Regions from separate parts of the Homo sapiens genome. Here regions 1 and 3 are each linked to region 2. The links come from fine-mapping of genetic effects on gene expression. A gene starts in region 2. Each other region holds a variant in brackets. All regions are shown on one strand. Distances are between the middles of the regions. Region 1 has its middle 13 kb from the start of CCL27. Region 2 holds the start of ARID3C (AT-rich interaction domain 3C). Region 3 overlaps UBAP2 (ubiquitin associated protein 2).

What was found. PIP is the estimated chance that this variant, and not a neighbour inherited with it, causes the effect.
Region 1: its variant is fine-mapped to the expression of ARID3C in cerebellum (GTEx, PIP 0.98).
Region 3: its variant is fine-mapped to the expression of ARID3C in cerebral cortex (GTEx, PIP above 0.99).

What each region holds. Positions count from the first base shown.
Region 1 is chr9:34,671,141-34,679,321 of GRCh38, forward strand. It overlaps a transcript of PHF24 not described here. Among named protein-coding and RNA genes, the nearest start is that of CCL27, 13 kb to the left of the region's middle. The variant G/A (reference allele first, on the strand shown) is at 4,220.
Region 2 is chr9:34,624,210-34,632,390 of GRCh38, forward strand. It overlaps ARID3C (AT-rich interaction domain 3C), which reads right to left and starts at 4,857. Exons shown (of 8, transcript NM_001017363.4): 1 at 4,708-4,857; 2 at 3,488-3,877; 3 at 1,533-1,605. The coding sequence starts at 3,805. RefSeq lists an enhancer at 1-533 and silencers at 4,666-4,765, 4,816-4,975.
Region 3 is chr9:33,989,202-33,997,382 of GRCh38, forward strand. It overlaps UBAP2 (ubiquitin associated protein 2), which reads right to left. Exons shown (of 29, transcript NM_001370062.2): 4 at 7,022-7,132. Among named protein-coding and RNA genes, the nearest start is that of SNORD121A, 40 kb to the left of the region's middle. RefSeq lists an enhancer at 1-147. The variant C/T (reference allele first, on the strand shown) is at 4,389.

The sequences.
Region 1 (8,181 bases), 47 kb after region 2:
CTTGGCCTAGAACATGCCCATTCTCTACCGTGGCCTCCCTATCCTGGGAATTGAGAGGGATTTTTGAGGAGAGGGTTTGGTCTGCTCACAGAGTAACAGGAAAAGAAAGGAATGAGGGAGTCCTGAGAAGCAGGCTTACTGTGTACTGGTTGCCAATTTGTCTGAGTCCAGTGGGAGAACACATCCAACAAGTTATATGAAATGGATTTATTACTCTCAGGTAGGCAGCAAGGGAAACAGAATCCCAGGATTAATTGTGAGGCAGCCCCCAAGGCTCAGGAAAGCTGCCCAGGGCAGATGGCTTCATCTGCCTATGCTGCACTTGCACTGCAGCCAAGGACTCCAGAAAGCAGCCTGCCTTGGGTTTTATACCCCAGGGCAATGTGAATTCCTGGGCTAAAACATTGAAGGATATTGTTTCTGGGGTGGGACTAGAAGAGAGCCTGTTCCTTGTCTGTTTCTGTCACCTCTTCCTTATCTCAAGATTTTGCATTCCAAGTGAGAAAGGGAGGAGAACTGGGTCAGTGTACGGTCACCCAGAGAACTGTTCTGCCAGACCCAAGAGATAGACCTCTCAGAAGACACTATTGTGGAGTGCTATTCTGTTTCCCATTCCAGATCTAGAGTATATAGTGGAGCAGATTTAATTGCCTGTATTTTTCTGCCTCATCCATCCATCCATCCATCCATCCATCCATCCATCCATCCATCCATGTGTCTATATGTCTACTCATCTTTATCTCTTCATCAGCCCATTCTTCCTTCTTTCATCTTTCATTTATTTTTTCATATATTCATTGTGACCTGTTCATCTGTATGTTCAACCATTATTCATTTATTGTTTCCCTTCATTTGTTTGTCTCTCAGTTATGGTAATAATTAACATTTATGATACTTAAGTGCCAGGCACCATGCAAAATGCTTTAAATTCATTGTCTCATGACAAATCTATGAAGTGGATTGCTGTGGGCTGTTTTTGTTTATGCAGACCACTTTTCTACTTTTCTATACCCCTTTTTGTGGTTCCTGTAGGAAACTCCTTTCCCACTTAACATGGTCTTGGTGGGGCTGTCAGCTACAGTGCTCTGATCAGAGTACCCCTTTTCCTGGCCACTGTGATAGACTGAAGAACTGAGTATGTATCACAAGTACAGTTAACCAGAGCTTTCTATGAGATTTGATGTTTGGATGCTAGGAGAAAGAGAGTCTCTTTTAGATCAATCAATATAAAAATTTAGGCTTAAGGCTTCTAGTGGCCATATTTCTTGCTACTAGAAGAGCACCTGTATCTTAGACCATTTTCTGTTTCTTAACAGAATACCTAAATCTGGGTAATTTATAAAGAAAAATAATTTATTTCTTACAGTTATGGAGGCTGAGAAGTCCAAGATTGAGGGGACATACCTGGTGAGATCCTTCTTGCTGGTGGGGACTCTCTGCAGGGTCGTGAGGTGTGGCACAGGGCATCACATGGTGAGGGGGCTGAGTGTCCTAGCCCGTGTCTTTTCTTAGGAAGCCTCTAGTCCCACACCCATAATAACCCATTACTCCATGGATGGATTCATCCATTCATCAAGGCAGAGCCCTCATGACCCAATCACTACTTAAAGGCCCCACCTTTCAATATTGCTACATTTGGGATTAAATTTCTTTTATTTATTTTTAATTTGTTATATATTTTTAAGAGACGAAGTCTCACTCTGTCGCCCAGGCTGGAGTGCAGTGGCATGATCATGGCTCACTGCAGCCTTGAACTCCTGGTCTCAGCCAGTTCTTCTGCCTCAGCTTCCCAAGTAGCTGAGACTACAGCTACAGGTGTGCACCACCATGCCCAGCCAGGGATTAAATTTCAGCATGAGTTTTGGAGGGGACAAATATTCAAACCATAGCAACCTGTCTATGACAGGAATGAGATCCCTACACAAAAAGATTAGTCAGAGCATGGTGGCTCATGCCTGTAAACCCAGCACTTTGGAAGGCCAAGGCGGACAGATCACCTGGGGTCAGAAGTTTGACACCAGCCTAGCCAACCTAGTGAAATCCTGTCTCTACTAAAAATACAAAAATTAGCCAGTCGTGGTGGCATGTACCTGCAGTCCCAGCTACTCGAGAGATGAGGCAGGAGGATTCTCTAACCTGGGAGCGGGAGGTTGCAGTGAGCCGAGATCGTGCCACTGCACTCCGGTCCGGGCTACAGAGCGAGACTCTATTTCAAAAAAAAAAAAAAGAGAGGAATTGAGGTAAGAGAAGGAGATAACAACATTTCAACCCCTGGATCCAGCCAGGGTTGCAGATAATCTTCTCCTTAATGAGAAGCTTTTTTGTTGTTGTTGTTTGTTTGTTTTTTTAAGATGGAGCCTCGCTCTGTTGCCTAGTCTGGAGTGCAGAGGTGTGATCTCGGCTCACTGCAACCTCCACCTCTTGGGCTCAAGTGATTCTCCCACCTCAGCCTCCTGAGTAGGTGGGTGCCACAGCCTGGCTAATTTTTTTTTTTTTTTTGAGACGGAGTCTCGCTCTGTCGCCCAGGCTGGAGTGCAGTGGTGTGATCTCGGCTCACTTCAAGCTCTGCCTCCCAGGTTCACGCCATTCTCCTGCCTCAGCCTCCAGAGTAGTTGGGACTACAGGCACCCGCTGCCAAACCTGGCTAATTTTTTGTATTTTTAGTAGAGACGGGGTTTCACCATGTTAGCCAGGATGGTCTTGATCTCCTGACCTTGTGATCTGCCTGCCTCGGCCTCCCAGAGTGCTGGGATTACAGGTGTGAGCCACCGCACCTGGCCAGCCTGGCTAATTTTTGTAGAGACAGAATTTCCCCATGTTGCCCAGGCAGGTGTCAAATTCCTGAGGTTAAGCAGGCCACCTGCCTCAGCCTCCCAAAGTGCTGGGATTACAGGCGTGAGCCACTGCATCTGGCCTCATACCTAGTTTTGATATAACAAATTTAACTTTTTGCTCAAGGTGCTTTGAATTGGGTTTTTGCCGTTTGCAACCGAAAAAGCCCTCAGTAAAAATGACTGTATTATCCCTATTATACAGATGGGAAACTAAGACCCAGAAAGGTTAATTTTCCCAAGATTTCCCAGTTTATAATGAGTGGAACACTGGTATTCGGAGCAAAACTCTGCTTTATTACCTGTATGTGTCCATCTGCCCATCTATCCATCCGTCCATCCCATCCATTTATTTCTCTGACCATCTTTCAATGCCAAGACACTGAAGACAATTAGTCTTGTTTCACTTGCCAACTTCAATTCTGAAGCTGAGTCTGGATCAGGGATTGGTAAACTTTCTGTAAATGTCCAGATAGTAAATATTTAAGATTCTGTGGGCCATACAGTCTTTGTAGCAACTACTCAGCTTTGCTGTTGCAGCACAAAAGCAGTCATAGATATATTTAAATGAATAAGCATGGCTGTATTCCAATAAAACTCTATTTACAGAAACAGGTGGCAGGCTGCATTTGGCCCATGGGCCATAGTTTGCCAATCCTAGTCTGGATCAATGGGGAAGACATATTATGTTTTATTATTGGGAACATGAACAGGGAGTGCCCTTGTGTTTGTACTGTGATTATATGCTTAAACGATTGTAGTGTGTCCTTGGTGTATGTGAGTGATTGGCTGTGTGATTGATTATGTGTCTGTGTATGTATGTGTGTGGGTAGAGACACGTAGGTGGGTAAGGGTGTCGGCAATTATGTGTTTGTGTATGGTGTTTTTGTTGTTGTTGTTATTTTTGTTTTTTGAGACAGGGTCTCGCTCTGTCACTCAGGCTGGAATGCAGTGGCGTGATCTCGGCTCACTGTAACCACCACTGGGCTCAAGCTATCCTCCTACCTCCCAAGTAGCTGGGACTACAGGTGCGTGCCACTACACCCCACTAATTTTTTGTATTTTTAGTAGAGATGGGGTTTCACCGTGTTGCCCAGGCTGGTGTCAAACTCCCGGGCTCAAGTGATCCTCCCGCCTTGGCCTCCTGCAGTGCTAGGAGTATAGGTGTGAGCCACTGCGCTGGGCAGGTTTGTTTTCTGGCTGCTTTTTCAATCCATCTCTTTGTGGTTCTCAATCCGCAAGGGCCTGCAGGGGGCGTCCAGTGCCTAGGGAAAAGGGGCTCCTGGCCTGGACTCTCAACCTCATGGGGCCTGCAGAGGGCGTCTAGCATACGGGGAAAATGGAGTGTGTGGTTCCTGGCCTGTGGAAGAGGGGATCTGGCCTAAGTG[G/A]GCTGTCATGTCTTGTTCCAGAAAGGGGCTGGAAATGAGCAAGAAACCAAATTACTCAACTTCTGAAAGTCCCTGATCCTGGGAAGGGGTCTGCTTCACTTCCTATCCTTTTGCAAATCCTCTATTCATGTCTGGAGGGTCTCAGTCCAGCTGGAGGGGCAGAGCTTGGCTCTGCAGTCCCAGAGTGTGGGTGGAACATTGCACAGAACTTCTGGAGGTGATGGGATATCAGGATAGGGGGAAGTCTTGAGCAATAGCATACACCCCTTCCCTGCGTCCTATCCCCTGGAGCTTGAAATAACGCCACTGCCAGGGTTTCCTCAATAGTTATCTCCTCTATTCCCTGCAGTTTGGGTCACTCTGAACCTCAGGGTGCCTGGGCCTGGGCTGAGCTTGCTTGGGAGAAGCTCAGGAAACAAGGGCCCCTGGATGTAAAGCTGAGGGTGACCTCTGCTATGTGGTTGGAGATGGGGAGCCCTGGGGTGTCAGAGGGAAGTAGGGAGGGGAGGCTGCCTGAAGGAGATAGCTTTGCAAAAAGAACCTCAAGGATGGGTGGGAATGGAGAAAGGACATTCCAGACAGAATGAACAGCAAGCACAAAGGCTCAGAGGAGGGACATAAGAGTTTGTGATTAATCCCAATGTAGGTGGGGCGGGGAAAGGGCTAGTGGTGGGAGAGGCTATATGTGTGTGGGAGGTGGAGTGGGGGAGTTATTTCTGGTCATATATAATTTTGAAAAATTCCTGAGGAAGGAGCCATGGGGATGGCCAAGCCCAGATGTTGCAACTGCCCTTAGGAAGGAGGCTGAAGTCAGGGCTGGGCTGTAGTAGCAGGGCTGAAGAAGTGGCGCAGATACCAGAGACATTAAAGAGGTAGAAGTTGGGCTGGGCATGGTGGCTCATGCCTGTAATCCCAGCACTTTGGAAGGCCAAGGCAGGTGGATCACTTGAGCCCAGGAGTTCAAGACCAGCCTAGGCACAATGGGGAAACCACATCTCTACAAAAAATACAAAACTTTGCTGGGCATGGTGGCGGGCCCCTGTAGTCCCAGCTTCTCAGGAGGCTGAGGTGGAGGATCTCTTGAGCCTGGGAAGTTGAGGCTGAAGTGAGCCATGATTATGCCACTGCACTCCAGTCTGGGCAACAGAGTGAGACCCTGGAAGAGCCAGGGATGGTGTACAGATCTACTTCTGGGTTCCAGGCTGCAGAGCCAACTGCCTATTTGGGATTTCCTTGGCTTTCTTACAGATACTGGATTGGGCTGTTTTTGCATTGTTATAAAGAAATACCTGAAACTGGGTAATTTATAAGAAAAAAGGTTTAGTTGGCTCACAGTTCTGCAAGCAATACAGGAAGCATAACACTGGCATTTGCTTCTGAGGAGGACTCAGGAAGCTTACAATCACGGCAGAAGCTGAAGGGGGAGCAGGCATCTCATATGGCAGGGGAAGGAGCAAGAGAGAAACAGAGGGAGATGCCACACGCTCTTAAACAGCTAGATCACATGAGAACTCACTCATTTTCAGGAGGACAGCCCCAAGGGGGTGGGGCTAAGCCCTCCATGAGAAATCCATTCCCGTGATCCAATCACCTCCCGCCAGGCCCTATTTCCAATACTGGGGATGACGCTTCAACATGACATTTGGGCAGGGACACATTTCCAAACTATATCAGATACCTTATTCCAAAACCAAACTCCTGATTCTCAACACCTCCCTCCTAGCTTGTCTTCGTCTTCTCCCCAGTTATCCATCTCAGAAAAGGAAGCCACCATCCCTCCAGGGGCTCAGGCCTGAAGCCTGGTGTCATCCCTGGTTTTTCCCTTGCCCTTATGCTTCAAATATAATCCATCAGCTCAGCCTCATGTTCTACTTATAAGTCCATATTGGATTCCTCTTCTCTATTCCAACTGCCACCACCTAGGTTAGGCCAGCATCATCTCTTTCCTAGACTACTGGAAAAGCCCTCTGACTTCCCCATTCTTTGTACAATTCATTTTTCCTGACTGCTGATAGGGTCTTTGTAAACTGTTTTTTTTTTTTTTTTTTTTTTTTTGAGATGGAGTCTCGCTCTGTCGCCCAGGCTGGAGTGCAGTGGCACGATCTTGGCTCACTGTAAGCTCCGCCTCCCGGGTTCACGCCATTCTCCTGCCTTAACCTCCCGAGTAGATGGGACTACAGGTGCCCGCCACCACGCCTGGCTAATTTTTTGTATTTTTAGTAGAGACGGGGTTTCACCGTGTTAGAAAGAGGATGTTCTCGATCTCCTGACCTCGTGATCCACCCGCCTGGGCCTCCCAAAATGCTGGGATTACAGGTGTGAGCCACTTCGCCCAGCCAGTAAACTGTTAATGAGATCATGTTACTCCTCAGATTAAATCTTTCACAGCACTTATAGAACAAAATCCTCACTCCTTCTTGTGGCCTGCAAAGACTTGGATCCTATGATTCCAGCCTCTGTGTCCTACCTCTTCTTATGCCATCTCCTCCTCGTCCATTGTCCTCTGGCCACACTGGTCATTCCTCCTTGAATGGCTGGCTTCTTCTCTTTTAGGTGTCCTGGTGGTTAATACTGAGTGTCAATTTGATTGGATTGAAGGATTCAAAGTATTGATCCTGGGTGTGTCTGTGAGGGTGTTGCCAAAGGAGATTAACATTTGAGTCAGTGGGCTGGGAAAGGCAGACCCACCCTTAATGTGAGTGGGCACAATCTAATTGCTGCCGGCAATATGTGCAGGCAGAAAAATGTGAAAAGAGAGACTGGCCTAGCCTCCCAGCCTACATCTTTCTCCCATCCTGGATGTTTCCTGCCCTTGAATGTTGGACTCCAAGTTCTTCAGTTTTGGAACTCGGACTGTCTCTCCTTGCTCCTCAGCCTGCAGACGGCCTATTGTGGGACCTTGTGATCGTGTGAGGTAATACTTAATAAACTCCCCCCCTTTATATATTTTCTTTCTTTCCTTCCTTCCTTCCTTTTTTTTTTTTTTTTTTTGGAATGACGTTTTGCTCTTGTTGCCCTGGCTGGAGCGCAATGGCGCAGTATCGCTCACTCTGCAACCTCTGCCTCCTGGGTTCAAGCGATTCTCCTGCCTCAGCCTCCTGAGTAGCTGGGATTACAGGCGCCTGCCACCACACCCAGCTAATTTTTGTATATTTAGTAGAGACAGGGTTTCACCATTTTGACCAGGCTGGTCTTGAACTTCTGACCTCAAGTGATCCGCCCGCCTAGGCATCCCAAAGTGCTGGGATTAAGAGCCACCATGCCTGGCTCTTTCTTTTTCTTTTTTTTTGAGACAGAGTCTTGCTCTGTCACCCAGGCTGGAGTGCAGTGACACGATCTCGGCTCACTGCAACCTCCACCTCCCGGGTTCAGGCAATTCTTCCACCTCAGCCTCCTGAGTCTCTGGGACTACAGGCATGGGCTACCATGCCCGGCTAATTTTTGTATTTTTAGTAGAGATGGGGTTTCACCATGTTGGCCAGCTGGTCTGGAACTCCTGACCTCAGGCGATCCGTCTGCCTTGGCCTCCCAAAGTGCTAGGATTACAGGCCTGAGCCATCACACCCGGCCCCTTTAGATATGTCTATTCCATTAGTTCTGTCCCTTTAGAGTTTAAACTAACACCTGTCTGGTTTGAACCCCCTTCCTGCATAAAAGCCCTACAGGCCAGATACTCACATTCCCAGCCTCTCTTGCATCTAAGAAAGTCCAACCAATCTGGATGTACCTTCTCAGGGCTGTGAATCAAGTATTAGTGATGCAAAGAAGCAAGGACCATGGGGAATCCATTTTGGTGGTGGCAGTAGAATTGGTGGCAGTGCCATTGTCTCTCACTTGGCCCTTTGACTCATCAGATCCAGTGGTGTTTGAGGTGTCTGTGGCCAATTACCATGCAGTATGAAGCCCAAGAGCAGGTTGCTCACATTTCCAGCATGCTTGCTTCTGGGTCATTGTCACCTTTC
Region 2 (8,181 bases):
AGGCTAGAACGGGGGGGGGCAAAGTTCTGTAAAAGGCCAGATGGCTAAATGGTCTCTGTCACAACTACTCAACGCTGTCATTGTAGCCTAAAGGCGGCCATAGAGAATACCTGAAGGAATGGATGCGGCTGTGTTCCAATAATATAGACTCTGAAATTCGAATTTCACCAGTCTGGAGATGTTATTCATCTTTAAATTTTGTCCCCCAACTATTTAAACAAGTAAAAACCATTCTTATCTTGCAGGCAGCTGGGTTTGGCCTGCAAACTTTAGTTTGCTGTCCCCTGGGGTAGACCGCAGGAAGGACTTTCGGACAGTGCTGAAGAGCCGGCCTCCCCTAAGCAGCAGCCCCCGGGTGGCTGCCCAAGGCTGGGGGATGACGGGCGGGAAAAGAATCAACTCCCGCCTCGGCCCGCCGACTCCGCAGCCCGCGCCGCCCCCGCCGGCCAGTCCTGACAAAGGGGCCTGTCTGCGCTGAGCGATGGGCCCCAGTTAATTCCTTACCGATCCCGTCCCCTTCCGCCGCGCCTTTGGACCCGAACAATTAGCTGCGGCCTGATTAATGGGGGAAAATTATCGGCCCCGCGGGACCCCCTCCCCCTGCAGCTGGAGCGGTGGGAGGCAGGGACCGAAGGGAGGCAGGCAATGCTGGGATCGGTTCACACCCGCTACCCCAGTGGAGGGGAGGCCTCGAGGAAGGGCCAGAGAGGGAACACTGGAACCAGAATGGGCCTCCCTGGGAACCAAAAGGACTTAGGTCCCTACTGAGGGTCCCTGGGAAGGTAAGGGACCAGAAAGAGGTGCTGGGGTGAGGGCCGGGAGTGGGAAGTGGGCCAGCAGCTGCACTAAAGGCGGTGGGGGGGCGGGGGGTAACAGGGCAGCCAGTTAATTAGCGGCTTATCAGGCTGCGCTCTGAGTGAGTTAATTAGCTTTGCAGAGAGAGATAATGAGTCAGTGTTCGGTCCCATGAATCTGGGAAAAAGCTGAAGTGATGGACTGCCGCCCACCCTGATGCCCTCCTGGACCCTTCTTGCGTTCTCCTCCAGCTCTGACATTCCTGGAAAGGAATTTCTCCTCCTCCACAGCCTCAACTCACATAGTCCCCAGCCCACCCCTTGGGAAGTCCTTCCTTCAGTCTATTCCTAGTCCTTCCTGCTGTAGAGCACGTGAGGTGTCCCCTGCCTGAATCAAGGGAAAACAGGGAAGACATGGCTGGAGGAAGGACCCTGGACACAGAACCAAGGCATTCTCAGCCCTCTGATTCTGGGACCCTCCCACCCCAGGCCAGGCTCCCATCAGTTCCCCCTCCCACCCTCCCAATTGATCCCAAACTCATTAACCTGCCAGTGGGCTGGCCACTAATTAATCCTGGGGTGGAGGAGGGGGACAGGGTCAGAGGTTAAAGACGCTATCGAGGGCCCAAAGGACAGGTGCTGCCAAGCTCAGGCCTCAGCAGGGAGAACCCAACCGGGTTTCCTCAAACCTGGTAAGGGGGCAATTCCAGGGCCCTTCCCCCACATCATGCCACTCACCCCTCTTTTGCATGAAGCTAAACAGGTCATCCAGAAATTCCTTCCTCTTGGGGTCTGCATCGAGCTCATACAGCTGGGGAAGGATTGGGGTCATTCTACAGCTCTGCTGACTCCCCCTCCCTCCCTTGACCCCAATTCAGGTTGTACCCTGAACAAGGGTCCCTAGCTGAAGGAGTCAGTAGGATCTCAATGTGGACTCCCTGGGATTAGCATTAGGCTCTCTCCGCCTAGGGGCAGGCAGGGGTGCCTTTTTCTAGTACATACAGAGACTGGTACTGGTAGTGGTACCCTGGGCCATTCAAACCACCCATCTGGGGAGTAAGGGAAGAGAGGAACAGGATGGAGCTTGGAGGCTCAGCCTGCCCTCTGGGGCTCAGTCTTCCCCCACCCTCATGGGAAATTTAGAGCCCCAGGAAGGAAGCTAGGCTGGGGTTGTATACCAGACTGAGGAGACAAACATATATCTGATGCTCTGATTCATTCATGCAAGGACTTCATGGTGTTCACATCCCTGTATGCCAGGGCTGGGGGTGACTGAAGGGCAGAGATGCTCCTAACCCACCCCTCAGGCAGGGTGATGCTCAGAAGCTCCTGGGTTGACACCCAGGGCCCTTCAGCTCATCTTCTGGTCTGATTTCCTTTCAGAGGCAGTTAACCTGCCTACAGACGCTGCTATAGAGGCACTGGCCCTGTACCACCTAGGACCTGTGGGGTCAGAGTTTAAAGGATCCACAGGCCATCTCAACTCTTCCTGGTAATCTGGAGTCCCACCTCCTGCATCAACTCCCGAATACTAGTCAAGAGAACCACCCCTTGAGTCACTGACCCAGAGTAACAGTCCTTGAGTAACACCTATAGATAATATTCCATCACTCCATCCCCATAAGAATCCTCAGAGTATAAAACAAACAAAATATCCATGAGTAATAAACCCCAGATCCACCTTTAGAGCCACATTCCCACAAAAATTGAGCCCTAAGTCTAAGATGTTATTACTTAGATCCAAGTAATAACCCCTAGAATTATACCTAGGAGAAACAGTCTCTAGACCACATATCCAGAACAGAGCCCTGAGTAACACTCAGTTTTATACTAATGCCAGAGTACTAGTCACAGATCAACACTTTTGGAATATACCCAGACCAACACCCTACAAGTACCAGAATAGCACACCTGGAGACACAGCCCTGTGTAACACCTTCATAGTGACAGCCTTGAGTAGTGTCCTTAGAATAACACCCAGAAGGGTTCTCCAGGGAGAAAGAACCTCAGATTAAGGCCCTGTGAATGAAGTCTTGTCATTCTGAGTTGCGGAGGAGCCCTTTAGTCATACTGCGGCTGTAGTGGCCATCCCAGGCTGGGAACTATCATCCGTGGAACTCAGGCCAGGGAGATTTGCATGGGGCCAGGGTTAGGGAGGAGGTGACAGGAAAGAAAGGAAAGGTGTATCAGCCTGCCAAGTGAGTGATAACCTCCATTCTGCTTCCAAAGACAGAGGAAGCAACTGGGTCACCCCCACTGGTCACTGGAATATGACCTTGTGACTTGATGTGTGAGAAGGTAGGCAGGGTGGTGCTGGCATTGGAATCCCCAGCCCCTAGACTGCCTTCCCTACACCTGGCTGGGCATGGTGGCTCATCCCTGTAATCTCAGCACTTTGGGAAGCTGAGGTGGGAGGATTACCTGAAGTCAAGAGTTCGAGACCGGCCTGGGCAATACAAGAAAACCTTGTCTTTACAAAAGAAATTTTAAAAAATTAGCCAGGCATCTGTCTTTCCCTCCCTGTCACTATCCTCCAATCTTCTCTCTGTCTTTCTATAGGTCTCCGTGTCTCTGTGTCTCTTTTCATCTTGCAGAGGGTGGTGGGGGTGGGTGGGCTGCTAATCACCTGGCTGTGCTTTTGCCAGAAGAGAGAGATAGGGAAGAGGGCCGGACATTGAGGGCATAGGTCCTACCTGCTTGAATTGTTCCTCGTAGGTCCACTCGTGGGGATGGAGTCCAGGGGGCTGGCTAGAAGGCGAGCTGGGGCCCTGGGCCCCTGGACGGCTCTCCTCAGCTGCCTCCTCCTCTGCCCCGGCTTCCTCCCGCTTCTCCTCATCTTCTTCAGCATCTTCCTCTTCCTCAGCCCCAACATTCCCCAAGGCCCCCTCAGGGGCCTGTAGGGTCCGGTGGTCAGGCAGGGGAGGCTGCGGTGGCAGCAGCGGGCATGCAGGGGCCAATGGCCCCACCCCCTGGGCCAGCCGAGCTGCCTGCTGCTTCTGCAGGGCCTCCATGACAGCTTCCAGGCGCAGTCCCCCAGCTGAGGGGGTCCCTGGTACCAGGCGGGACCCCGAGGAAAGGGCCGCCTGTGGGGGAGGGAATTATGGGTGCTGGGCCCTACTGCCCCCAGAGCCCCCCAACACAGGGGGAGGTGGTCATGGATTCAGGGAAGTGCAGGGGTCACAAGGAAAGAGGCAGAAAGATGGCTTTCCCAGAGGTGAACAGAAACAGGACCAGACCCGGGGAATCAAATGGCCATTGACTGAGGACTGGAAGAGTGAGCAGATCAGAGAGGGTGACGGGGACCAAGAGACATCGGGAAATGGTGAAGGAAGGGAGAGAGAAAGAAAAGGAGAAGGGGGATGTCCGACAGAGACAATGACAGGGAGATGTGAAAATAGAGATGGAACAGGGTGACAAGGAGAGACAGAAGTGGGGTGACACAGAGACTGAGAGGGACCAAGATGGAGAGAGGCAGAGGTATCAGGCAGAGACAGGGTAGACAGACAGAGATGGAGAGAGATAGAATATTGGGTAGAGAGACAGGGAGGGTAAGAGAGGTAGAGGAGCAACAGATAAAAGACCTAAGTGACAGGTAGCTCAGAGACGGACAGAGACGGAGAGACAGAGGCGGAGATAGACAAATAGACAGGGGTTGAGATATAGGGAAAGACCAAGACAGCAGGAAACGGACAGAAGAGAGAGATTAGAAAGAGACAGTTAAATAGAGAGGGACCGACAGAGACAGGGACGGGAAAAACAGCCGGAGAGAGGGGCAGAGGACAGGGACCAAGGAGTCGCGGGGATGGAGGGCGGTGGGGCAGAGCCTGGGACGGGCACGGGACCGGACGGGCAGGAGGCGGCAGAGTCGCGACGCCCGGCTCCCTCGCTCCGGGCGCCCCGCGGCCGCACTCACCTGCCTGGCGTGGCCCGCTGCCCCTGGCGTCTCCACGGCGCTGCCTTTGCTCCGCCCGCCTCCCAGGCGGCCCTGGCCTCGGCTGGGTCCCGGCGGTGCGCTCCCGCCGCCCTGTGCTCCTCTGGCGGCTGTGCGCTCACTCGCCGCGCTGCTTGCGGCGGCCGCGGGGGCGGGACCCGAGCGGGGCAGGGCGGGCGGGGCGCATGGGGAGAGGCCCCTGTGGGATCTGCCGCTCTCAGCTCCCCAACAGGTGTCTCCCACCTTCTTTCCAGCCAGCTTCGGGGGCAGGGGGCGCTGGAAAGCTGCGGGGGAATCGTGCGAAAATGAGGGCTCTACCGCCACCGGACTCCGGACCAGAGCCCCGCCCAGCCTCACAAGTCGTGCCCCCGACACCCACACTCGGCACTGGGCTTCCACATACAAATAGCCGCATCCACACACCAACACACCTTGTCACAAGTTCAGGCGCATAGCTTCCCAGTCTCACACGTTCCGTGACATGGTCACCACAGTGCCAATGGCCTGGGCACGCTGTGATCAAGAGGGGAATCCCTCTGCAAGATGCTGGGGTGTGCGTGGAGGGTCTGGTCAGAATAGAAGCTTCTCCCTTTGCCTTGAGCACCCCTGCCCTGCCTACGTGCTGTCCCCCACTGCGGGCATGCTGCGGTTTGCACACATGAGTGCACATGGTGGTGGACCCACACCTATGCACTCACACACTCTCAGAGGTCTTTAAGCTGACTGCACACTCACCGCATGCAGATACACAGCCACACACAGTTTTTGTCTCTTTTGACATTCTATTATGGAAATTTTCTTTTCTTTTCTTTTTCTTTCTTTTCTTTTTTTTCTTTTTTGGAGACAGAGTCTCTGTCACCCAGGCTGGAGTGCAGTGGCGCGATCTGGGCTCACTGCAGCCTCCGCCTCCCAGGTTCAAGTGATTCTACTGCCTCAGCCTCCCGAATAGCTGGAATTAGCTGGGATTACAGGCGTCCACCACCAGACCCGGCTAATTTTTGTCTTTTTAGTAGAGATGGGGTTTCACCATTTTGGCTAGGCTGGTCTCGAACTCCTGACCTCAAGTGATCCACCCACCCTGGCCACCCACAGTGCTGGGATTACAGGCATGAGCTACCGTACCCAGCCTGTATTATGAAAATTTTGAAACATAGACAAGTGAATAGTATAATGAACCTCTGGTACTCATCATAGGTTTGTTTCAACAGTGACCGGCACTTCGCCCATGTTCACACACATTCTCCACCTATGTGTGCCTGACTGCCACATCTGTATCTCCAGACCCCCTCAGCCCACTGCTTTGCGCCCTCCCCCTAACTATTCCCAAGACGCTGAAATGCTGTTCCTTATTTGGGGGTTCTGAGTGGCAGGCCTCTCAGAATTTCTGCTCTGAACAGCCTGGACCCCACTCCTCCCGGGAATCCTCATACTTCCTATTTCTTCCTGTGCCCAAGGGGACCACTTACCAAACAGAGGGACACTGTGAGGTGATGCCAAGTGTGTAAGTGAACAGCAGGTGTCTGTAGGGGTGACACTTGGCATAGGTATGAAACTGTGGCACCAGAGACTGTCTTCTGACCTCACACCCCCAGAAGGCAGGAATCCAAACACGACCTTTGTCTCCTCCCTCCTCCCTTGTCCTCTCCCAATCAGTCCACTCCTCTCAGCCTCAGCTTGCTCTGGCTCAAACCACCGGCTCTTCTGACCATGGTGGGTCTGACCATGGTGGGTGCCTCCTCCCTGCTCTCCCTGCCTCCAGCCGCCACCCTTCTCTGCACCCTTCTGTGCCCAGCTTCTACTGCAGCACTAAGTCCTGGTTCTCTATGGCCCATTCCTGGCCACGCTGAGGCTCACCCCATTCATTCCTTTGGCTGCCCCAGTGTCCTCCACCTCAGATTTCAGACCTCTGAGCCCATCAGAACCCCCCAGCCTCCAGAAGCTCCAGTGATCCAATCACTGTCGGTACTGATGCCTCCTCCCCCATGGCTTTGTTTGGTGTGAGTATCCTGGGGCAGAGCCAAGCCTCCTCCTCTGCCCAACCCTCCCTGATGCTGGGAGGGGAGAATCAGTGAATGTGCCAGGCAGACAGACATGCCCTGGAAGTCTACTGGAAGACTGGAGAGCAGAGGGTAGCAATCCACAGAACCCTTGTGCCCTGCTTGCTCCCTTTTCCCCACCACAGCTTCCCCTGGCTGCTCAGAGGAGGTCCATGGACAAAGGTAGGTGGCCAGAGTCTTCCTAGAAAGGTAGGAATTGGCTTGGGGAAATTCCAGTTCTGAGTGTTTGGAGATCGCTTTGTAGGGTTTGGGTTGAATGGTAAGGGGCTGGGCAGTCACTCCCCCAGCTCCCAAATCAATCAAGCAAAGTTAATCCACTTTTGGGGTCTGGGCCAGGAGGGCTACAACTGGGAAGGGCTGAGGGGAAGGAATATGCTTGACTGGGACTTGGTTTATCTCTCTTCATCTGTGAAAAGGAAAGGCTGCCTCTCATACCCGCAGTCTGGTCTTATACCTCACAGAGACGGAGACAGACCTAGACCTTCAGAGACCCATGCTTCATTCATCCAACACATATTTATTATCTATTTTTTTTGCCAGGCACTGTTGGACACAGGAGCAAATAAGACAAAGTCCTTATTATAATGGTACAATTCTAAGTGGGGGAAATATACAGTGTGTCAGATAGTGGTAAGTACCATGGAGAAAAATGTAGCTGGGTTGGGGGGAACATAAAAGGGGGCATTAGTTACCTATTGCTGTGTAACAAATCACCCCATAATTTAGCAGCTTAAAACAAAAACATTTATTTTCTCACAATTCTGTGGGTCTGGATGGTTCTGACTCATTGTCCTCTAAGGTGTTGTAGTAAAAAGGTTGGCCAGGGATGCAGTCATCTGAAGGCTTGACTGGAACTGGAGGATCTACTTCCAAAATGGCTCACTTGCATGGCCCTTGGCAGGGGGCCTGTTCCCCCCGCAATATGGGCCTCTCCATAGGATTGCTTGTATGTCCTCTCAACATGGCAGTTGGTTTCCCCCAGAATGATCCAAGAGAGACTCTTTAGACAGCAATGCTTTTTATGGCCTAGTCCTAGAAGTCACACACTGTTATTTATGCCACATTATTTGTGAAAGTACATAATTAAGTCTAGTCCACTCAAGGGGAAGGAATTTAGGCTTCACCTCTTGAAGGACAGAGCATCAAAAATTTTGTGAAGGTATTTCAAATCACCATGCAAGAGATACTATTATATAAGTGTTGAAGAACTCAGTGAGCAGGAATTGAAGGAGGGGAGGAAGAGAGCTATGACTACGTGGATACCTAGGGACGAGCACTACGGTCAGAATAGCAGGTACAAATATCCTGGGATAGAATTTTGCTTGATGTGTTGGAAGAAAAGCAAGGAGGCCACTGGGTTGGAATAGGGGGGCTGAAGGGGTGAGTGGTTGGAATGTCT
Region 3 (8,181 bases), 640 kb before region 2:
TCTTTTTTTTTTTTTTTTTGAGACGGAGTCTCGCTCTGTCGCCCAGGCTGGAGTGCATGGCGCCCTCTCAGCTCACTGCAAGCTCCGCCTCCCAGGTTCACAACATTCTCCTGCCTCAGTCTCCTGAGTAGCTGGGACTACAGGCGCCTGCCACCACGCCCAACTAATTTTTTGTATTTTTAGTGGAGATGGGGTTTCATCGTGTTAGCCATGATGGTCTCGATCTCCTGACCTCGTGATCTGCCCGCCTTGGCCTCCCAAAGTGCTGGGATTACAGGCGTGAGCCACCGCGCCCGGCACATGCACGTATCTTTCAAACCTAACTACCCACAGCTTGCAGCTCACCTGCTTATCATTTAAATTCTTTCCCTATAGTTCTACTTTATTGATGATGAAGGTAACAATCCTCTTGCTAAGCTCCTGTTGCTAAATAATTACAGCTATTAGCTGACCTGACAAAATACTGTACATTTTCCCAACATAAAGCCCTTTCCTATGCAAATTTAGGAATACAGTAAAAGTCATTTCCCCAAGCTCCTATTCTACACCACCTCACTTACCTCTCTATTAGGCCTTAAATCTACTTATTAATTCAAAGACCACAAAATTACTTAGAATGATGCCCCAAAAGCTCCAGGAATACAACCTTGCCTGTTCCATTATTCAAACTAATTATCTAAAACAATTTAATGGCAGATAAGTAAAATTTTAGCTTGGTTTTGGTGGGTTTTTAAAAAATTTATAAAGCACCTAAATTTTTAACCTCCAAAGAATTCTTCTAGTGAGAAGTCAAATAATTTATATAACCTCCCTTCTCCACCTCTCCCCTAATGGTGATACCAAATCTAATCTACCATATATATATATATATAAATGGCTGAGAAAGAAAAAGATACTACATTCTTGACTATAAGTGGATATAAAAATTATCAAGCAGGGTAGTTACAGAGAAATCCTAAAATTGGCCCAATAGTTTCCATTTACTTATTCATAATCTGCCTTATTTCAGAAGGGACTGGAAATGACTCCATCCAAAATTAAGAGTAACTGTTTTATGCTTTTTAAAAATCTTACAGAAAAACAAAATTTGACATTATATATCCAAAGTAAACATTAGCACTGGAAATTAATAAACTAAAATTTGGGTGATAAGTTGAATTATTTCCATAACAGTGGAAGCCAACTTCCAAACTCTTTTTTTGAAATGGAATATCTGGTCTTCTGCAAAGCTGTGATGAACTCACATATTTAATTAGATATAAAATGGATATGAAAAAGATATAAATTATGTTCCACCTCTAAGCTTTAATAATGAAGACTGAATATACTATCACCTGATAGTTAAGGTGAAACAATGAGGTATTATCATACAGTTCTGGTGAGCATGCATCTATTGTAACCTTTCTAGAAGGTTACTTAGAAATAGTACCCCCCAATTTTTTTTTTTTTTTTGAGACAGAGTCTCACTCTGTCACCCAGAGTGGAGTGCAATGGCACAGTCTCGGCTCACTGCAACCTGCATCTCCTGGGTTCAAGTGATAACTCCTGTCTCAGCCTCCCGAGTAGCTGGGGTTATAGGCGTACACCACCACACCCAGTGAATTTTTGTAATTTTAGTAGAGACGGGGTTTCACCATGTTGGCCAGGGTGCTCTCGAACTCCTGACCTCAGGTGATCCACCTACCTCGGCCTCCCAAAGTACTGGTATTACAGGCATAAGCCACTGCGCCTGGCCTATTTGGTGCATACTCTTTCAACCCAGCAATTCTACTTCTAGGCCCTTATTCAAATAAAACAACGTGGCCGAGCACACTGGCTCACGCCTGTAATCCCAGCACATTGGGAGGCCAAAGCAGGAAGATCACTTGAGGCCAGGAGTTGGAGACTATCCTGGCCAACATTGTGAAACTCTTATCTCTACTAAAAATACAAAAATTAGCTGAGAGTGGTGGCAGGCACCTGTAATCCCAGCTACTCAGGAGGCTGAGGCAGGAGAATCAATTGAACCTAGAAGGCTTGAACCTGGGAGGTGGAGGTTGCAGTGAGCCAAGATCACACCACTGCACTCCAGCCTGGGTGACAGAGCGAGACTCTGTATCAAAAATAATAATAATAATAACGTAAGAATTGTTCAAACATTTATGTGCAGACAAAATGATCAACAGCATAAAAGGAGGGGAGGCGGATTCCCAAAATATCAAATTCAGGAGACTAAGTAGTCTAGTGTATCCATAAATGGAGCAGTATGTAGCCATTTTACCAGTTACATAGGTACATATAGAAAGAGGTCCTTGATAGAAAAAGCAAGCTATCAGCAAACAGCATATAGAATTACATTTTTTAGTTCAAATAGGAGCCTATGTACTTACTGAAGGAAGAGGTATAAGTCATTATTTAAGTGAGGATGTTTAATTTGATTTAATCTTTAATATTTTTCTGCATTTCTTTTCTAATTAAACAATAAAGCTTATCTATGCCAGAGAAAATAATGCCCACACTGAACAAACTCAATTTATTATGTTTGCTAATATGAAAATACTAGACAACTGTGTAAAACAGAATCCAGTCCTCTTAGGTTAGAATACAAAAAGTAAATTCCAGAGGTCCTGGAAAAATCATCCCAGAAGAGTTGGCATAAAGTGTATGTATACACAATGTACATCTTTACACAGCCTCGCCGAAAGGTACTCTATCTTTATAAAGGGGCCAGCTGTCTTTGTAAAACATCTGAGAAACACTTTACCCCATTTCATATAGCAAATGATACCCTGGCCAGGCACGGTGGCTCACACCTGTAATCCCAGCACTTTGGGAGCCCAAGGTGGGCAGATCATGAGGTCAGGAGTTCCAGACCACCCTGGCCAACATGGTGAAACCCCATCTCTACTAAACATACAAAAATTAGCAGCCGGGTGCAGTGGCTCATGCCTGTAATCCCACCACTTTGGGAGGCTGAGCGGGTGGATCACCTGAGGTTGGGAGTTCAAGACCAGCCTGACCAACATGGAGAAACCCCATCTCTACTAAAAATACAAAATTAGCCGGGCGTGGTGGCGCATTCCTGTAATCCCAGCTACTCGGGAGGCTGAGGCGGAAGAATCGCTTGAACCCGGGAGGCAGGAGGTTGTGGTGAGCCGAGATCACGCCATTACTCTCCAGCCTGGTCAACAAGAGCAAAACTCCATCTCAAAAAAAAAAAAAAAAAAAAATTAGCCAGGCGTGGTGGCACATGTCTGTAATCCCAGCTACTCAGAAGGCTGAGGCAGGAGAACTGCTTGAACCTGGGAGGCAGAGGTTGCAGTGAGCTGAGATCATGCCATTGCACTCCAGCCTGGGTGACAGCGCAAGACTCCCATCTCAAAAAAATAAAAATAAAAAAAAGATACCCTCCCCATCCTACTGCCCCTCAAGCAAAGTCTTGGTTTATGAGCTCTACAAAGACAACTTATCGGGCGGAGGGGGGGGGGCACAAATAGGGAAAAGAACCTTTAAGAAGCAATCTTTACAATACCATAGTAACTGCTAAAAAGATTACTGTGTATTTTGCTGAAGTCTGCAAAGTATACACACATGCATACTTTAAAAAGTTAACCAAGTAATTATGGAGGATTTCCAAGAGAATTTCTGGCAACCTCTGTTATCGGTATTTTGCTAGTTGCAGAACAGGTCTGAAGAAACTCTAAGAGGAGAGGTCCTCCCAGCCACCACATAATAATCAGAACAGCAGTCTTCGAAGCCAGCTAGTTCAAAAATTACTCTCCCACCACTTTGCCTTTGCCAAAAACTACCAACACAAACAACTTACTAAAAAGAGTTAAGTACATTAATTCAAGAGACCGATACTTCAAAACAATTTTGTCACATCAACCAAACATTATGATGAAACAAAAAGTTCAGTACTTATGTTCAATATCTTCCTTTGTGACAGATATACTTACATAAGAAAAAATAAATTTATCCTTAAAAACATCATGGACGATTCCACTTAACACCTTTTCCAAGTAATAATTTTGTTTCAGCACAGAGGAAGGTTAGATAATAGGAAAAGAATCGTTTGCCTTCATGCTCTTGCTCCTAGCAACATCACAGTGTTTATATTCTGTCAACCCTACTCCAATTAACTCTATCTCAGTCAAGGGAAGATAATCAAAGCTGTTTAGCCATAGGTGCTGCAGATGGCAACTAGGTAAGAGATGAGGCAAACAGTATGAGAGACAAGATGTACCAGAGAGTGGTCCTCAACAAACCAGGGTTTCAAAGACTCCAGCCTGAGCAACATAGAAACACAGAGACCCCCTAACTCTACAAAATATAAAAATGATTAGCCAAGCGTAGTGGCATGCGCCTGTGGTCCCGGCTACTCGGCAGGCTGGAGGATGGCATAAGCC[C/T]GGGAGGTCGAGGCTGTAGTAAACCGTGATGGCACCACTGCACTCTAGCCTGGGCAACGGAGTGAGACCCTGTCTTAATAAAAAACCCAAAACACCAAACAACTAAAACAAAGACTTTACCTCTACTTCTGTCCCCCACAGCCCACTCAGCCCTGAACAAGTGTATTCTTTCACAACTATATTCAGAACTTCATTTGCTATTTTCTTATCTTTGAAGAAAACAAGAAGTCAGATATAGCCCACACTATAAAATCGTTCAAGAGGTAACCAAAGAGGTGTTCTTCATGAAAAGTTCAGCTTTGCTTTCTTTTTTTTTTTTTTTTGAGACCGAGTCTCGCACTGTCGCCTGGGCTGGAGTGCAATGCCGCGATCTCGGCTCACTACAACCTCTGCTTCCCGGGTTCAAGCAATTCTCCTGCCTCAGCCGCCTGAGTAGCTGGGATTGCAGGCGCCCACCACCACACCTGGCTAATTTTTTGTATTTTTAGTAGACATGGGGTTTCGCCATGTTGACCAGGCTGGTCTCAAACTCCTGACCTCGTGATCTGCCCACCTAGGCCTTCCAAAGTGCTGGGATTACAGGCATGAGCCGCAGTGCCCAGTCAGTCTTACTTTCTAATACATAGCCCAGAACCAGCTCCTTCAGGTTCGGTCCCAAAGGAGGAGGGGGTGTTAAAACTCAAAACAGAAAGAGAAAACTGGACATTTAAAACTTAAAAATTCACCAAACTACCAGAGAAAAGGAATTAAATCTGCTGGAGCTAAAGGAAAGGCAACAAAAAATAGTGTCTGGACTTATCTCTACCATAAAAAGATCCAAAAAGATCCTCTCCAGTGAACAATTTGGGTTATTTTGTTTATTCCCAAAGATTTTTTCTTTTTTTTTTTTTTCCCTAAACAAAGAGGGCGGTTAGGCTCTTCAGTTCACTTTGAAAATAACTGAAAGCCACTCTCTGCTGTACCCATTAGCGATAAGGTAAACAGATCCTCCATATTTTGCAAAACCCAGGATACTTAGTCCCAGGTCAGTAAACAAAAACTATTCAAAATTTTAATTTATCATATAATATGGTTTTCCCAAAAAAAAAAAATCACAAATTTGATGGTTTGTCTTGTGTACCAGTGTTCTCTTACATGGAATTTTACCAACAATTACTGCTACACTCAAACAGTGAAATCTTTTCCACATTAGTTAATTTTTACTTTAAAAGAATTCATTCTCTTTGTTTCACATCAACTAAAAACACAGTCATTTTAGCTTTCAGTTTCTCAGAGTTCATTTTTGTATTTCTTGTACCTAATGCAGCATGACCCTAAAATGAGACTTCAATTAAATCTGAACACTGACACGGTCAGTTTGTTTGTTTTAAATTTTCCAAGGAAAGGTAGTTATTGATGTGTTCATCTTTGTATCCTCTTTTAGGTGAGTCATTTTTTTTTAATCTACTCTAAAATAGTTTCCTCAATTTAAGAAACATAAACACAGGTCAGGTGTGGTGGCTGACACTTGTAATCCCAACACTTTGGGAGGCCAAGACGGGTGGATCACCTGAGGTCAGGAGTTTGAGACCAGTCTGGCCAACATGGCGAAACCCCACCTCTACTAAAAATACAAAAATTAGCTGGTCGTGGTGGCGCATGCCTGTAGTACTAGCTACTTGGGAGGCTGAGGCAAAAGAATCACTTGAACCCAGGAGACGGAGGTTGCAGTGAGTCAAGATCACACTACTGCACTCCAGCCTGGGTGGCAGAGTGAGGCTGTCTCAAAAAAATAAATAAATATATAAATATATATATTAAATATAAATATATATATAAAGTATATATATTTATATATTATTAAACAAATATTATAAATATTATATATAATATATATTAAATATATAAATATATTTATATTATTAAATATATATATTTATATTATTAAATATATAAATATATTTATATTATTAAATATATTATTAAATAATTTAATTTAATTTAAAATTAAATTATTTAAAATTTAAAATTATTAAATAAATATATATTTATAAATAAATATATACATATGTATAAAAACTATAATATATAAATATAAATATATACACACAGCAAAATTTTAGGGCTGACAAGTGCCTGGTGTAGCTTTAGCTGTATCCTTCTTAAAATCCAAGGCCTGAGCTCATGAGCCTGCAAGCTCACCAAACTTAACCCAATATTAAAAAAAAAAAAGAAAACTTAATATTCCACATAAGCAAATACATATACCAGCAAATCCTGGTTTTCTGTTATAATAGAGATGTAAGAAGTAATCAGAGGTGAGGACTGAGATGAAGAAACATAAGCAACAGAGCCAAGAGATGCTTTTCAGGTGGGGGTGGTGAAAATATACACAGGCACAGAGATTTTTGGAAACTGTAAGGCTGGAGTAGATCACCAAGTTCTCTTTCAAGTCATCAGATTCTACGACTTCATGAAGAAACCATACATAACAAAAACAGTCTTTTCAGGTAATCGTTCTTTCTGGAACTTAAAACAAATATGGAATGGCACCATAATCCATTCCATCCCTACCCCCAAACAAGGTGAAGTTGAAAATGTGCTACGGAATTGGAGACAAATGTAAACAATGCAAATCAATTAATAATACTTACTGTGTCTGAATTCCCTTCCAGCAATATATTGATAGCTTTGTTCACATCTCCATTACAATCATGTAGGGCCACTATGCATTCATCCTGATTTTTCCCTGTCACTTCCATAAGCTAGTGAACATATCAGAAAATGGTTAGAGGCAAACAAAAAACTGGCACTTGATATTAAGATTCTTCTATACAAATACAGAATTACATAATCCTTCTACATGAAGATGGCCTCTTCTAGACTCTTGAGTTTACAATGAGGACATGTTTACTTATTTTTTTGTGGCCATTCCATGCATGTCTTTTCACTAACACTGGTAGAATCTAACTACAAATCAATCTTCCTCCAAGTTGACCAAGGAGCAGATCATTAATCAGCAGCACACACATACGTACCAACATTCTCAGAATACCCAAGATCAAGTATCTGAATAATCAAATTTAATTCAAGCACACAGGATTCCTAAACTTAAATATGAGGTGGAACTATATGAGTACACGGTCATCATTCATGGAAAATCCAATACAAATTTTTTGTCAGGGACAATATTCCATATGCTGGCTTTCACCATTTGGATTAGAACACTTCAAAGGCCAGCCGCAGTGGCTCACAACTATAATCAACACTTTGGGAGGCAGAGACGAGAGGATTGCTTGAGCCCAGGAGTTCGAGACTGGACAATATAGTGAGACCTCATCTTTACAAAAAATTAACCGAGCGTAGTGGTAGGAGGATTGCTTCAGCCCTGGAGGTGAAGGTTGCAATAAGCCATGATTGTGCCACTGCACTCTAGCACAGGAGACAGAGCGAGACCCTGTCTCCCCCCTCAAAAAAAAGAAGAAAAAACATCATTCCATGTACATACTAAGTTATATGACACCCTAAAGTCTTACAAGTGGAATTCTGCTACTATCACAAAACACACTCCTAGACATATTTTCTCAAGGATCTTCAACATGGTGCTATGCTTGAAGTAATGATGAAAGAAACTCTTCAGTTTATTCTCATTAGCAAGAGATACTTGTTACTTAGCATTTTCATCACTAGAACGATCACAGACTAGGCAAAATGCAGGTTTCTCAAGTATCAGTGAATAAATCTATGATTTAATATCTATTGCATTTTAACTACATTTAACTATTTTAACATGTACTAGCTGAAGTTCAAAACA